Regions from separate parts of the Homo sapiens genome. Here regions 2, 3 and 4 are each linked to region 1. The links come from fine-mapping of genetic effects on gene expression. A gene starts in region 1. Each other region holds a variant in brackets. All regions are shown on one strand. Distances are between the middles of the regions.

Region 1 (4,167 bases):
AAGTCCTACTTTGAAAAGCAGATGGCAGGAGTTTTGAATACAAAAAAGGAGTTGCCTGGGCAGATGGCAGTAGACAAGGCATGAAGAAATGAAGGTCTCAACAGAGACGCAAGAGGCAGAACAGAATATGTAAGAACAAGGGTTCAAGAAGAGGGAGACATGAGCAAAGTCCTGGCTTCAGAGAGTCAGTAGCCGGGGATCTGGTAGAGAGTCCCTGCCTCTGGGATGAGCCCTTCCTCCACAAAATATCTGTCCAGCCATACTCCTCAGTCAGACAGCACTGTGAAGGTTCACATGGCATTTCGTAAAGCCTGTGGGGCTCCCCCAAAACACTCTTCCCTATCCATCTGGCAAACATTACTGTCAAATGTATCAAAAACTTATCATATAACACTTCCAGTTTTTTCATCATAAGCCCTTCCAAACTGCCTGCTGCTATTGTTAATGACTGAAGATTCTGACATCTCCTTCATGGAACAAACTCCAGCTCTCTTTTTTTCTTCCTACTTACCTTACTTAGTAAATTTCAATATATTTTCATGCAAATGTTAGAACCTATGCCTTCTACTTTTCCTTCGAAATGCTCTTGGCTCTTGCAACTACAGCTGTGTAACTCCATAGCGGATGAAACCATCACAATCTAGAAAATCATTTCTCTGTCTTTTGGACAAGATTTCATTTGATTTCAGAATCATCTCCTGACTATCCAGTGGGCTTGCCTGCAAAGAAGTATGATTCTCAAGGATACATTTGTTCCATTACAACTTTTTGTATGATACTTGGGTGAGTTCATAGTTCCTCCTAAAGAAAGGTGTCCATCGTGGTAGAGCACTGAATCAGTGAACTTTAAAGCTAGGAAAGACTTCTAAAGGCCATTTATTATAGCTTCCTAGCTTACAGAAGCAGAAATGAAGCCTCAGAGATATGAAGGCCTTTGCAAAGGCCACTCCTCCAGTGAGGTGCTGAACCAGGTTTAGAAGCTTGGTGGCCTAGAATCCTGTTTAGTGTTCTTTTATGCCACGCTATTTTTAATCTTGCTTGACTAGTGTGGAAGTCATTTGTGAGTTCGCCAGTACAGGCATACCTCGTGTTACTGCTCTTCACTTTACTGTGCTTCACAGATATTGCATTTTTAACAAATTGAAGGTTTGTAGCAATCCTGCATCAAGCAAGTCTATTGGCGCCATTTTTCCAACAGCATGTGCTCCCTTATGTCCACATCAGCATTTTTTTAGCAACAAAGTATTTTTAATTAAGTTATGCACCTTGTTTTCTTAGACATAATACTATTGCACGCTTAGTAGACCACAGTATAGTGTAATCATAGGTTTTCTATGCACTGAGAAACCAAGAAATTTGTGTGACTTGTCTCATTGTGATATTCGCTTTATTTTGGTGGTCAGAAACCAAACCCGCAATCTCTCTGACATATGCCTATATTTCTTTGAGGAGGTAAAGGAAGAAGTTAGGCATGGCCATGTGACTTGTTTTGGCTAATGAAATGTGAGCAGAAGCAAAGTGTTTCACTTCCGCTTTAAGAACCAGTAGGTGATTCACCAAGTTCCCTTTCTGCTACCATGGCAACAGGCAACATACTAGATAATAGAAGTTCACCAGCTGAGGACTACGAGGATATTGAGGACAATGTGGAGCAGAGCCCCAGCTGACTCATAAAGGACATGTAGCATGAGTAAAAAATAAACCTTCACGGTCGTAAGCCACTGAGACTTGGGGGTTGTTTGTTACTACACCATCACCTAGCCTGTCCCCACCAGGTGAGCCTGAGCCACACCTCCATTTCCATGATGCACCTCTGTGCATGAAGACTTCAGAGGGTACTCAATGCAGGAAATCAGAATTCAGCTCCATAAAACATTCCAGATTCCACATATCACCAACATTCTTTCTTCCTCTTGGCTTATATTAGGGATAGGGGATGTGGTTTGTTACAAAGGATGAGTATTTTGATAGCTTCTCATTCCTTGAACTATTCTGCAGGTAAGTTCCTGGTGGAAATTCCTCTATTCTTAGGGTTAAAAACAGAATGAATGAGATGATTTTAATAAGCTCAGTGCATTATGACCTCAAATGCATCATCCTGTACTTACATGCACATACATGTGCAAAGATCTTTGGTTTCCTGGGAGGCTTTCTAGCTAGATAAGTCTCAGCACTTCACATGTTTCCTAACTTTATGAGCATCAACATTATGGCAAGCTGATGCTTCAAAAACACCATATCATCAGATATTTCATATGAATAGTTACAAAATTAATGGAAGCTCCTCATAGAGTAGTAAGAGAGCCTCTGTGACCCTGGGTAAGTCACTTAGCCTCTCTGGGCCTCAGTTTCCTTATCTTTAAATGAGGATAGTAGTAGTCCCTGCCTCCCAGGGTTCATGTGAGAATGAAGTTAGGTCATGCACATCATGTCTGGTTCATAATAAGTACATAATATTAGCTATATCTGAGCCATAGAGTACATAGAAATCTAAAAAGTAAACTCGATTCAGACTTTTTGCTTTCCAAGAAGGGTAAATTCAGAAACTGTTTGGTTCACCAAGTAGTGGTTTTCTGGAAAAGATGTAAAACCATGGTCCTGCCATCTGGAGGTTTTAACACCCTTTTAAAAACACAAACAGATGGGTAAGCAAGTGGGTATTGCTAACAGTTCAGGAAAATTTTCCAAACCTCTTGCTGAGGGCATAGATCCAGCTGGGAAAATCTTTAAAGGGCAGAGGCTCATTTATACTTTTTCCATCTTAAATACTTGGACTTTTTCAGGTTTATAACAAAGCTCAGAAAATACTAAAGGTTAAAGGAGAATTGAGAGCTGCCAAGGAAATGAAAGATGAGGTAAGGCTCCTAACTCCTCTACATGCATGGAGTTGAATATTCATTACAAGGGACTTTTTTCATGTTTTATGATTCAAAATTCCAGTAATAAGCATCACAAAATATCATGGACAGAGGTGGGCAGCAGAGCATCGTGTTTAAGAGCCCAGACTCGAGCTGGGTGGGTCTGGGTCCATATCTACCAGCAGTATGATACTGAGTTTGTTTCCTACTTTTAAGTTTCCTTTGCCTTATCTAGAAAATATGAATTGTGATCACCTACTCTAAGTTTCCTTTGCCTTATCTAGAAAATATGAATGATGATCACCTATTCCAAAGACTTGGTATGAGGATTAGCAAAGGTAGTGCATGTAGAAAGCACTTAATCGATATTAACTATTGTTGCTAACATTCTCTCTTTATCTGGAATGATATGAAAATGGAGTGTCTGATTAGTTTAATATTTTGGTCAAACTGTGTTTATGGGGCCAGGCGCAGTGACTCAAACCTGTAATCCCAGCACTTTGGGAGGCCGAGGCAGGAGGATCACTTGAGCCCAAGAGTTTAAGACCAGCCTGGGCAACATGGTAAGACCCCTGTCTCTACAAAAAATAAAAAAAATTAGCCAGGTGTGGTGGCACGCTCTTTTGGTCCCAGCCACTCAGGAGGCTGAGGCAAGTGGATCACTTGAGCCTGGGAGGTTGAAGCTGCAGTGAGCCATGATCACACCAGTGCATTCCAGCCGGGGCGACAAAGACCCTGTCTCAAACAACAACAACAGCAGCAAACTATGTTTATGTATGCCCTACCTTGTTCCAGAAAGGATTTAAGGGGACTTTTTTGATGAGTAAAGGATTGTCCCATGTACCATATGCTTTTTAACAGACCTCCTACCAAGAGGTGAGCAGATTCTGAAACAGGCAGTCCACTCCTTTCCTGCTGCATTACTGGAGCCATACAGAACTTCATACCAGTTCTGTGGGGAACAAGGATCTCGTATGGATTTTCTAGAAGGCTCTTTCTTCATTTAATTTATATCTTTGGAGCACCTTCAATATGCCAGGCGTTCATTGTTCTAGGAGCTGGGAATAAAGCAGTGAACAAAATAGACAAAGATCTCTACTCTCATGGAGCTTACCTTCTTAGTAGAATAATTTCTCAAATGATATGATAGTGAAAAAAGTCTGTGAAAATTGCCCAGGTGCCAATAAAAATCAGCCCACGTTCCATAGGTGGCTGATCTCCAACATATGTCATATGTATCCTAGTCTGTATACTTACAGGGTGTGCCAATTTTGTTTTTATGGCAAACACTAATCTAGCCTTCCATGAT
Region 2 (4,167 bases), 230 kb before region 1:
CCTCCAGTGATCCACCCAACTTGGCCTCCCAAGGTGCTGGGATTACAGGCATGAGCTACTGCACCCGGCTGCCATTTCCATTCTTACCCTACTATGAATATAATTAAAGCCATTACATTGTATACTTGGAATGGGTAGGTTGTATTATGAATTGTATTTCAATGAAGGCATTTTTTAAAAATTAGAGCCATGTGACCAGGTGCAGTGGCTCACACCTGTGATCCCAGCACTTTGGGAGGCTAAGGCGGGTCGATTACTTGAGGTCAGGAGTTCAAGACCAGCCTGGCCAACATGGTGAAACCCCATCTCTACTAAAAATACAAAAATTAGCCAGGTGTGGTGGCACACACCTGTAATCCCAGCTACTCAGGAGAATGAGGCAGGAGAATTGCTTGAGCCTGGGAGGTGGAGGTTGCAGTGAGCCAAGATTGTGCCACTGCACTCCAGCCTGGCCGACAGAATGAGACTCTGTCTCAAAAAAAAAAAAAAAAAAAATTAGAGCCATGTAACAGTCTGTTTCTATTTACCATCTCATCCTTTGTGATATTATCTTATAGGTAATATATACATTAACCGAGAAGGTGTTATTATATTTCATTAGTCATTTTCTTTTAAAGATAAGAAAAAGTATAGTCCTTTATAGTTACCCAAGTATTTACCATTTCATATTTCTTCATTCTTTCTCTATAAATTTTCATCTGATTTTTCTCACCCTGAAGAATTTATATTTCTTTTAGAACCATTCTGCTGATAACAGGCTCTCTCAATTTTTTCTGAAAATTTATTTATTTTGCTTTCATTTTTTAAGATGATTGTTTTCCTAGGTAGAGATTGTAAGATTGGCAGTTCCTGCTTCCCTCAGCACTTTAAGATGTTCCATTATTTCCTCACCTCCATTGTTTCTGATGAGAAATCAGTAATAATTTGTATAATTGTTCCCCTGTTTATAATGGAGCTGTTTTTCCTCTGGCTGCTTTTCTCTTTATTTATGTTTTCAACTGTTCGGTGAAAATGTGCCTAAGTGTGGTTTCTTTGTATTTATCTTAATTGGAGTTCAGATCTTGTATCTATAAATTTATGTCTTTCATAATTTAGGAAAAATTTGGTCATTATTTCCTCAAATCTTTTATTATACTGCATTTTCACAGCTCTGAGAATACATTTAAATATAACTTAAAACCACTTAAATATAGTCCCACAGAATAGTGAGTCTTTGTAGGTTTTTTTCAATATTGTTTCTGTCTCATCTTCAGATTGAATATTTTCTATTGATGTATTTTCAAGTTCACGGCTTCCTTTCTTTGGCTTTCTCCAACTTACTTTTTTTCCATCCACTGTTTCTTCATGTGTTTAGTAGTTTTTAATTGTGCTATTGTGGAGGCTATGGCTATCTTTAAATACTGCTGATTTTGTTCTAGCAAGCAATTCAAGGGACTGAGCTCAAAAATGAAACTCCTCCCTGAGCTAAACTCTTCACTCATTTTTTTTAGCCTTCCAGCTGTTGTTTTTTGCCAGGTCCTCTGCACATGCATTAATCAAGACCAGCCAAGGATTTGAGGGGGTTTATATGAAGATTTTATACCTCCAGGCCCTCAGCTTTCTCCTGTCTGAGGTCTTCCCATGATTTTCTAGCAATTCCATCAGCCCAAAATTTTTTCCTTTGAATCCTCAAATCAGGTAAGACTATAGCTTTCTGCTTGCGTTCCAGCCGTTTCATGTGGTGTAGACTGACTGGAAAGAGCCTTTAAGTGAAAAGCCAGATGCAGAATCAATGCAGTTCCCCTTTCAGTTTCTACCTGCTTTAAGTTGTCCCAGTGCCTTCAAATAGTTGTTTTTATATTTTTCCCCAGAATGTATTGCTGTCTATTGGAAGGTTAACATAATACAAGTCAATCTACCATTGCCAAAAGTGTAACGGCATCATAATTTTAAAATTTGGATAATACTTTTGCACATAGAATGTTCCTTTTTTATGCCCTCTCGTTCTTGTCTCATGAATGCAATCAAAATATTTTCTTATTTAACAATATTGATTATGGGTCTTATGAGATTATTTTCTGCTTCCTGTTCTCTTTTCGTCAATTTTTTTTTTTCCTTATTCAGCTTTTTAGTGTATGGAGAGAGGAACTTTGTTTAGATATCTGGTCCTTGACTTTCCATTCATATTTGAGGGTGAGGTTCTAAAAAGACAATTGAAATCTTCTTGTGCATAAATGTGGATTGTTATCTGTTGAAATCAATGTTAGACAGAATGAC[T/G]AGTCATTTTATTAGGGATCTCCAAATGTCAGTATTACGAAGTCTCTTATTTTATGATGGTGCTATTTCAGAGAGGATTTTTCTAAGTTCCTGTCTTGAAATTATGAGTTTGGTTGTCAGCATTCTTGGAGCCACACTGGGGAAAGAAGCTGGCATGGTGATATGGTTTGGCTTTGTCCCCACCCAAATCTCATCTTGAATTGTAGCTCCCATAATTCCCACATGTCGTGGGAGGGGCCTAGTGGGAGGTAACTGAATCATGGGGGCAGGCTTTTCCTGTGCTGTTATCGTGATAGTTAATAAGTCTCACAAGATCTGATGGTTTTATAAAGGACAGAGACTAAGTCTAGAAAGTCCTTCAAACTTATTCACCCTGGTACTATGGGTACCCTTAAAGAAAATATTTGTATATGCATGCCCAGATTCAAAGATGTGAGCCTCATACATTGGTACGTGAAGACCTGGCTGTGAGCCAAAGTCACAAGAAATGTAGGTAAGTACAGCTGGGCTCCTCCCATGCATTGAGAGGTACTCACAGGCTCAGCCCTAAGCAGGCTTGCACTGGGCAGGTTTTCAGAAAAAAGCCATGCCCAATTTATTGTTGCTTATCCAGCAATGACCAAGAATTATGGCATCAGAGTATTTAAATAGTGACAACAAAGAACATGCTGGGGCTGCTGGGTTCTCCTTGTTTCAATAAGGATATCTTGTGCCAGTGACATTAGTAACAGCTGTAAAGAATTCAACTGCTTGGTTGACTAGTCAGAGGATGCTTACCAGAACTGACCTGTAAGTCTGAATAAGCATCCTTAGAGGTCTTGAAGTTGTCAGCAAAGCAAACATCCTGGGGAGAAAATAAAGCATAGAGACATTTAATTTGAAAATTAAAAGGAATATGACATTATTATGTATCTTAGGCTTATGATAACAGATGTGTGTATACACATATAACAAACATTATATATGGACTGCAAAGTACTTGAAAATGATACCATATCAACAACTGTGCACTTAAAAATTCTGAATAAAGAGCACAGATACTAAGTAGAGACAAATTTTATCCATGAACAATCAGTCCAGGAAAGATTCCTGAAGTTAACTTCTCAGCTGGATTTTGAAGAGGATGAAGCCTATGTATCTTTATGGATGAAAGAGGGAAGTGATATAAATTCTAGGCTACCAAGCCAAAAAAAAATCAAGTTGAATTTTATTTATTTAATTGTAGAACAAATGATCAGCAGCAGAAGTCTCCCCACTGACCCCTAGCCACACACACACCCTTTTTTAATGATCTGCCACTCATCACAGTAATGAAGATGTTCTTTAGGCAATGTTATACCATATGGCCTAAAAGCTTAGAAGGCAAGAAAAGTCAAACCTGAGAATAGCAAACATAGTGAGCAGCTGAAGTGGAATATCTTTTATGGAAATAAACTCGTAGTTAATAAAACAGTAGTTCTAACAATGAAGTACCTTGAGTAATAAACTTACTGATTAATACGTAGCCAATGGGATACTTGAACTGAAGAATAATATTGTACAAATAATCTCAAAGTTTAGTTGGTGTACGAAAAGTCAGATGATGAGAATTTTCTAGCGCTTCCTTCTGCAATCATCTACACATGAGATAGTTAAGGCCAAATGATACAGTTGGCTGTATCCCCACCCAAATCTCATCTTGAATTTTAGCTCCCGTAATTCCCACGTGTTGTGGGATGGACCGGGTGGGAGATAACTGAATCATGGGGAGGATTTCTCCCATACTGTTCTCGTGGTAGTGAATAAGTCTCACGAGATCTGATGATTTTATAAGGGGTTTCCCCTTTCACTTTGCTCATTCTCTTGCCTGCCGCTATGTAAGATGTGCCTTTTGCCTTTTGCCTTTTGCCTTTCGCCTTCCACCATGATTGT
Region 3 (4,167 bases), 700 kb before region 1:
TCACATGTTGAATTCTGAGTAAAAAGAAAGCCTTAAAGAGGGGAATAATATGTTGATTTTGGGGCTATTTGTATTGGAGGGGAACTGCAAGTGCTGATAGGAGCTCTGTTTTCATTGAACATTTTCCTCAATATGGAAACAATAAGTAGTAAATGAAATTTGCATATCATCTGAAATATGCATAATATATATAATTGCAATACTTAAGAATACAAAATTATATAATTGGACTGGGGATGTTAGGAATCTTATTTTAATTTCAATTTGTAATTCCTTGAAATTTTTTTTTTGTTTTTTGTTTTTGGAGACAGAGTCTCACTCTGTTGCCCAGGCTGGAGTGCAAGTGCGGTGGCAGGATCTCGGCTAACTGCAAGCTCCGACTCCCGGGTTCATGCCATTCTCCTGCCTCAGCCTCCCCAGTAGCTGGGACTACAGGCGCCCACCAGCACGCCTGGCTAATTTTCTGTATTTTTAGTAGAGACACGGTTTCACTGTGTTAGCCAGTGTGGTCTTCATCTCGTGACCTCGTGATCTGCCTGCCTCAGCCTCCCAAAGTGTTGGGATTACAGGCGTGAGCCACCGCGCCCAGCCAATTCCTTAAAAAATTTTTAAAATTTTGGCCAGGCTTGGTGGTTCACACCTGTAATCCTAGCACTTTGGGAGGCTGAGGCGGGCGGATCACATGAGGTCAGGAGTTCAAAACCACCCTGGCCAACATGGTGAAACCCCGTCTCTACTAAAAATATTTTTAAAAAGGCCAGGTGTGGTGGCTCACACCTGTAATTCCAGCACTTTGGGAGGCTGAGGCAGGCGGATCATAAGGTCAGGAGATCAAGACCATTCTGGCCAACGTGGTGAAACCCCGTCTCTACTAAAAATATGAAAATTAGCTGGGCGTGGTGGCGCGTGCTTGTAATCCCAGCTACTTGGGAGGCTGAGGCAGGAAAATTGCTTGAACCAGTGAGTCAGAGGTTGCAGTGAGCCAAGATTGCACCATTGCACTCCAGCCTGGCAACAGAGTGAGACTCCGTCTCAAAAAAAAAAAAAAAAAATTAGCCGGGCATGGTGGCAGGCACCTGTGATCCTAGCTACTTGGGAGGCAGAGGCAGGAGAATCGCTTGAACCTGGCAGGCAGAGGTTGCAGTGAGCCAAGATTGCGCCATTGCACTCCAACCTGGGCGTCAAGAGCAAAACTCCATCTCAAAAATAAATAAATAAATAAAATGTTGATATAATTTCAGACTTATAGAAAAGTAATGTACTTTACATAGTAAGAAAATTCTCTCACCTGCATTCCCCAAATATTAGCATTTTACCACATTTCCTTTTTTGACTTCTCTCTCGCATTCATAATCTTACTCTCTCCATAAAGACGGAGAATAAATAGAAATATACACATTGCCATTTTTTTGGGAAGGATTTCAGAGTAAATTTCACACATGGTGCCCCTTGACATCAAAATAAGTTAGTGTGTATTTCCTAAGAACAAAGATATTTTACATAACCACAGAACAATGATCAAAATCAGAGAACTAACATTGCTATAAAACTATTAGGTTATTATAGTCCTTATTCAAATTTTCCTAATAATATCCTTTGTATGAAAAGAATATCTTAGATCACAAGGTATATTTAGCTGTCCTCTTTCATGTTCTTTCTTTTTTTTTTTTTTTTTTTGAGACAGAGTCTTGCTCTGTCGCCCAGGCTGGAGTGCAGTGGTGCGATCTCGGCTCACTGCAAGCTCCGCCTCCTGGGTTCATGCCATTCTCCTGCCTCAGCCTCCCAAGTAGCTGGGACTAAGGGCGCCTGCCACCACTGCCACCACTCCCGGCTAATTTTTTGTATTTTTAGTAGAGGCAGGGTTTTACTGTGTTAGCCAGGATGGTCTCGATCTCCTGACCCCGTGATCTGTCTGCCTCTGCCTCCCAAAGTGCTGGGATTACAGGCGTGAGCCACC[G/A]TGCCCAGCCGTTTTTTTTTCTTTTTTCTTTTTTTTTAAAGACAGGGTCTAGCTCTGTAGCTCTGTCACCCAGGCTGGAGTGCAATGGCGAGATCTTGGCTCACTGCAACCTCCACCTCCTGGGCTCAAGTGATCCTCCCACCTCAGCCTCCTGAGTACCTGGGACTACAGGCATGCATCACCACATCTGGCTAGTTTTTGTATTTTTTGTAGAGATGATGTCTCACCACATTGCCCAGGCTGGCCTTGAACTCCTGGGCTCAAGCAATCTGCCCGCTTTGGCCTCCCAAAGTGCTGGGATTACATCTCACCTGGCCCATATTCTTTAATCTAGCATTGTTCCTCTGTCTTGCCCTTTTATGACCTTGACATATTTGAAGAGTGTAGGTCAGCTGTTTTGTCAAGTATCCTTCAACTGGGTTCATGTGATGCTTCCTTATGATTAGAATCAGGCTGTGTATTTTGGTAGAAATGCCAAAAAAGAAAGCGTGTTCTTTCTCGTGTATTGTTTCATGAGATACATGATATTGATTTGTCTCTTGATTGCGGGCATCAGCTTTGGTCAGTTAGTTATGGTGGTTCCTTCTGGGGTTATCCATTCTGAAGTTACTATTTTTCCCTTTGTAATTAATGAGAATCTAGTGAGGATATGCTTGGAGATGATTTAATAAGGAATTGAACTGTTTAAATGAGATTGTTTTGAAAAAATGGCTAATAAAAATCAATAGGGAGAAATATTTGGCAAATGAAAGTGGTGGTCATTAAGGTTTATTTTTAGCCTATACTCCCCTTCCCGGTTTTCTAGATGATCAGGAAATTCAGCAGGCCAGAACTTTAGAAAGACTGGGAAGAATTTTCTAAAATGTCACTGATCACTCATGGTGTCAAACGAGGAATGGAGGCTTTGGGAAGTGGACAAAGAAACTATTACAGAATAAGAAGGAAGATCATGTGTTACCTTGGACAGAGCCTGGGTAACAGGGTCTTAGAATGTGAAAGTTGGTATTATGATAAATTGTAACTTATTTCTAAATCTTTTATTTAAGAAAAAAAAAACACCTTTAGCTCTCATCAGTGTGTTCTGCTATAACTGAGCCTCTGGTTGGCGAGGGCTCTGGCTGGCTGGTCCTTGAAGGATGATGGCAGAGGGGCTGGTAACTGTGCAAGAGCTCACAGAAGGGAAAGTGAAGGCTCCAGGGCCAGGCTTGCTGTTTCGTGTTTCTAGTCTCCCCAGTATTTTTTAAATGTAAGGCCTGGTAATAGCATTTGATTAATTTTCCATTTTCTCTACTAAAACTGTTAAAAATTTGAAGTCCTTCCTGCCTTCCTTTCCGTCTTCTCTCCCTTATCTGAAGGAAATGAATGAGAAAGCAGATGTTTGCCCTGGGATGGCTCAGAAAGCATAGTCTCATCTTCACCTTTCACCCTTTCTCTGTTATTTGGATTTTGGAAATACAGCCTTCTGATTTTTCTTCCTTTCATGTCAAATCATCGTCAGCTTTTTCTCCTGTCCATTCTTAGAATTCCTGCCAAGACCCACTCTTCCTTTCTGGAGGTAATTATTCCTGCTTTCATCTCCAAGGCTGTATGTACAATAGGGTTGTTTCTTACAACTCCTGAGGTGAACAGAGGGCTACTGAGCCTTGAGCCTGGAGAAGCAATCAAGGTGGAGGTGCAGAAGGTGACCAGGAGGCTCTCTGTGCCTGAGGAATCTCACTGTCTAACAGGAGAAGATTCCTAAGAAGCCTGTCGATGTGGACCCTGAAAACTGAAGATCTGCCAGTGTATAAAGGTCATGGGATGTAGTTGTAGCCAAAGATAGAGCGCGAACGGGTGGAGGGGGAGAAGCAAGGACTTTCCCCTCTAGGGAGTGCGGAGCCCTGAGATCTGGGGGACCTGGCAAAGTCACCTGATCTCTCCTTGTTTTAGAGGGTAAGACTGGCTCCCCAGTGGAAGATGGAAGAATGTGAGGGAAAGCTTATGTAAGGTGCAGGATGCCAGAGGGTCTAGGTTAGAGTGAGACACTTAATGCTGTTTTTAGGTGGTTCCACCTGGGAGAAATGGGGAAGAGAGCAGGTAAGGATGATCTGAGGATGTGAGCTTGGGCCTTGGATAGGCGCTGATTCTCCAAGTGGGAGAGAATAAGATGAAGGGCAGGAATGGGTAAGAAGGGAGGGTGAAAATGATGTTATCATCAAAACCACACATAC
Region 4 (4,167 bases), 490 kb before region 1:
TAACAGTGAACAATGCCAAATACATGTCTACTACCGGAGGAAATTTATTTTTCTCCTTTTAAGTACCTCTATGTTCAAGTTTCTTTTCTGTGCTTTCTAACCTCTAAGATCACTATATATTTTTAAATGAATGGTGTAAGTCCTTACAAAATTTAGGCATTTTTTTTTCTTGTCAGATAAATAACAGTTCAACTGACTTTGTTCAGTACAACACTGACATCCAAAGGATACTCGGGTTCATCTGAAGGCCTCTTGGGCTTCTGCTGAGTTGGTTTGATTTTCAAATGGTCTATGTAGGCAGTAAGCTGCTCATGGAACATTCTCTTTTGAAACCCTGGGCATTTTTTGATCTCTTACCCATTTATCAAATCTCATCACATTAAATGGCTCCACAATGCAGGTGGCCTGTGTTTTCCTAAGTGCCTCCTCTTCTTAAGAATGTATTACTCAGTTCATTAATGTTTCATACTTAAGTATTCTGTGTATTTAATTTTTTATTTAATGAAATTTCTAACCTTCAGGCTGACGAATTATTCAGAATGTTTCATCCAAGCTGTTGGAAAAGTGCTCATTAGCAGGGAGTTTTGAAGATGGAATTTTAAGAAAGGGGTTGGCAGGATCCCAAACACATATAGATCTAAGCTTTCATAAATGCTTCCCTACCTTAGCTATGGAGGAAGAAATTGTTGATAAGCAGATAAGTTTTGCTTTAGTTTTTACATTTTAGTGACAATAACAATGATTTCTGTGGTCTGATAAAAGATGTTCGTTTAAAGAGTTATCTGCAGAAAGCTGTGTGGTCACTAATGTTTACTTTCATTGACAAATGAGATCGTCTTGTGTGGGACTATCATCATCAAATGAGACACAACTGAAACTAAAGCAGCCATGCTTACCATTCGGTTTAAAATTTTTAAAATTAAAATAATGCTCCTAACGAAAGGAGTCTCAGCTGAATTAGTTTGAGTGTTGGCATGGACTGGGCTCAAATCACCTGCTCATCTTTAACACCTGCCTTCAGATTTATGGGCGATTAAGAACTTAAGTCTGAGAACCTATGAGACTGTCACAGAAAATAAAATTTCAGTTCTTCGTCCATTAACTGGTTCAGATGAAATTTGGGGTCAGAAACAACCAGAACGTTAAATTTCATTGTAAACTTAAATCGCATTCAATGGTTAAAGACTACAAAATGTATGTAGTGCAGTTAAAAAACCTCACACAGCAAGAGGTTATTGAATGTTTAAAGATCCAAAATTTCAACTTTTTGTGGTTAAGTACAGTTATGTTGGGTAACAAAGTTGACAGCAGGTTTCTGTTACCCCCCTGTTGGAGGAGGAGGAGGCGCTACCACACGCTTACCTTAGGGAAATAACGTGCACTTTATAACCGTTCAGGTAAATCGTTGGGTGAGAAAGAAGAATAAAGGACACAGCCGGTGGAGGGACCCCAGCACACAGTCCCGTGGGTGCTCCGGAGGAAACGGCCGCAGCCCCAAATCTCCTAGTCTCTCTAGCAGGGAGTTTTCCCGCGGAGTCTCGCCTGGCGGCCGGAAGCCACCTCAAGCCGCCCACCCGGAAGCCGTCGTCTTGGCAACTGGGTATCGTCCCACCCCCTTTTCTTAGCAACGCCTATCGCCTTAGACGTCTGAGGTCAGCCGAGCCTCGATTGGTTCCTCTGTCTTTCACTCTGGGAGACGTTTGAGACCCAGCGTCTCTAGATCTCGTATTTGAATTTGTGG[C/G]GCTTGGTGTCCGCGAGTTGCCGAATGAAGCTGAGCGTCTCAGTGGAACCAGGGATCTCAGGGGTGAGCGACCGCGAGGGGAGAGCGACGAAAAGGGCGGCCGGAGCTGGAGGGGCGCGGAGTTAAACAAAAAAGGGCGGCCGGAGCTGCAGGGGCGCCGAGTTAAACACGTCATTTCCAGATGGGGGGCTTCAGGCGAGCTGCTTAGCTCCCCTGAGGCAGGCCCTCCGTCTGTTCGCCTTTTCGTAGCCTCTGAGTTTTTCCCTCACGTCGTTTTCCGGCAGTCCCAGAGACGCCACGCCTGCCCCCGTTCTGTTGCCCCTGATGGAAGGCTCCTCTTAACGCTACCTTCCCTCTTTCACAAAATGTCTCTCAGCTTCCTTATTTCGACGTGCTTACACCTCCCCCAAGTATAATTCACTCCCCACTGATGTCTTTGGTAGTTTCATCCTCGTCTTCATCACTAATACTATGAGACACGGGGTGCGTGCACTTGACGATGTAGAAAAATGGTTTTCGCGCAACCTGGTGAGCGTCCCACACCTCACAAATTGAATCCAAAAAATTCCTTATTCATAAAAGATGCTGCTGTCCTACTCTTCCCGACCGGGAATATCATGACGTGGAAAGCAGCAAGTGACAGCGTTTTATAAAGCGCTACAAAAGTAAGCTATTGATGCGTTCACATCGGAAACATAATTGTTTTGTTTTCGGTCGGACCCTCTGGATCCATAGGTTTCGTATTGGGTTTATGGATACTGTTCAGACTTTGAAATGAATAATGCCAAAAGTTACGTTGGAGGACAAACTGAGGATTGATCCCAAGCACAAAAGTAACCACTGATTAAAACCTTCTCTTCATTAACCTTTAGCTTCTTTGTCTATTGTGATACTTCTCCCACCCCGGTGGATTTAATTTCCATTGAGATTTATGAACATTTTAGGAGTTTACAGTCTAAATAGACAGCTTTCCCCACCTCTCCTGTATATGACCATGAAAATCCTCTATTAACTTTCCAGTTTGATAATGCAGTATGAGCTTCTATATGCTTAGCCTCTAGAACAGAGATTCTTTTGGGGGTGGGGGGTCTTAGTCCTGTTTAAGACCCAGAGGAAAACCTTGGAGCTTTTCTCCAGAATATGACACATACACACAAAATTTTGTATTAGTTTTAGAGAGTTGTATTTTGTTTTAGTAGAAAAGAGATCTGACTTTGTTGCTCAGACTGATCTCCAGTGTCAGCCTCCCAAAGGGTTGGGATTACAAGCGTGAGCCGCCGAGCCCAACCCTGTTTTAGGGAGTTTTAGATTCTGTTTTGAAATGTGGATATTAGTGGGACCCCAGTCCAATTCTACACGTTTATTTATATATATACACACACGTATGTCTATATATATAATTATATATATTTACATAATATATATCTATGTATATAATTTTTTTAAGTAGAAATAAGCAGCGAAACAGTGTTTTAACTTCTACCGAATGGCTGTCATTTCTTAGTTTTAAGACTTGTAGTTCGGAGGGAGGTGGAATGAGAAGGCTGAAAATTTTACATGAGCTCTGATTTAAGGATATTAGAAAAGTCATTTCTAAGTGTGGCGGTCCACGCCTGTAATCCCAACCAACACTTTGGGAGGCTGAGGTGGAAAGACTGCTTCAGCCCAGGAGTTCGAGACCAACCCAGGAGTTCAAGACGATAGTCGGACCCCATCTCTACAAAAAAATTTTAAAATTAGCCAGCCGTGGTGGTGTTCGCCTTGCTCCCAGCTACTCAGGAGGCTGAGGTGGGAGGATCACTTGGGCCGGGGAATTCCAGGCTGCAGTGGCCAATGATCGTGCCTATCTCCAAAACAAACAAACAAAAAACAGAGAGATAAAGGTAGTAAGGTAGTATATGAGCACAGGGGCATACCAAAAAATAAGTTCACAAGGTATTGCATCCAGAGTCTTTTTGAATTAACAAGAAATAGGAAAATTCTTGATCAACATGAAGAGTGAAAATAGTTTGTGTGCCTTAATTTTTTGGATGTTTTATATTAAAATAATTTTATGGTGAATTCTACCAGCATATACCTGAATATAATCTCATAATCTTCTTCCTAACCATCTCAGGCATTATCTTTCACATGAGAACATTAGCTTACCTGAAATTTGCTTTTATATATGATGTGAGGAATGGCTTTAACTAAATTTTTTTTCACTGTTCGGTTGCCATTTTGGGGAGATTGGTCTTCAGTTTTGCTTTATTTTGATTGTCTGGTTTTAGAATTAGGGTAATGGTGTCTGACATCTTTAAGTGATCTGGGATGTGTTGTATTCTTTACTTCTTGAAAAAGTTTGTATAAGATTGGCATTGCATTGTTAAGTGTTTGATAGAATACATCCATCTATGTAGATCCATATTTTCATAATTTTCCTTCAG

What was found. PIP is the estimated chance that this variant, and not a neighbour inherited with it, causes the effect.
Region 2: its variant is fine-mapped to the expression of PMFBP1 in whole blood (TOPMed, PIP above 0.99).
Region 3: its variant is fine-mapped to the expression of PMFBP1 in tibial nerve (GTEx, PIP 0.97). The same link has a PIP of 0.9 or more in thyroid.
Region 4: its variant is fine-mapped to the expression of PMFBP1 in whole blood (TOPMed, PIP above 0.99).

Annotation. Positions count from the first base shown.
Region 1 is chr16:72,169,885-72,174,051 of GRCh38, reverse strand. It overlaps PMFBP1 (polyamine modulated factor 1 binding protein 1), which reads left to right and starts at 1,897. Exons shown (of 21, transcript NM_031293.3): 1 at 1,897-1,998; 2 at 2,784-2,855. The coding sequence starts at 2,844.
Region 2 is chr16:72,403,332-72,407,498 of GRCh38, reverse strand. The region is part of intron 7 of LINC01572 (long intergenic non-protein coding RNA 1572); the gene reads left to right. Among named protein-coding and RNA genes, the nearest start is that of PMFBP1, 230 kb to the right of the region's middle. The variant T/G (reference allele first, on the strand shown) is at 2,257.
Region 3 is chr16:72,868,228-72,872,394 of GRCh38, reverse strand. The region is part of intron 4 of ZFHX3 (zinc finger homeobox 3); the gene reads left to right. It overlaps LOC124903715 (a long non-coding RNA gene), which reads right to left and starts at 57. Exons shown (of 2, transcript XR_007065111.1): 1 at 1-57. The variant G/A (reference allele first, on the strand shown) is at 1,958.
Region 4 is chr16:72,662,529-72,666,695 of GRCh38, reverse strand. It overlaps LINC01572 (long intergenic non-protein coding RNA 1572), which reads left to right and starts at 1,726. Exons shown (of 14, transcript NR_126330.2): 1 at 1,726-1,804. It overlaps ZFHX3-AS1 (ZFHX3 antisense RNA 1), which reads right to left and starts at 1,563. Exons shown (of 4, transcript NR_171704.1): 1 at 1,363-1,563. RefSeq lists enhancers at 1,765-1,824, 1,865-1,984. The variant C/G (reference allele first, on the strand shown) is at 1,742.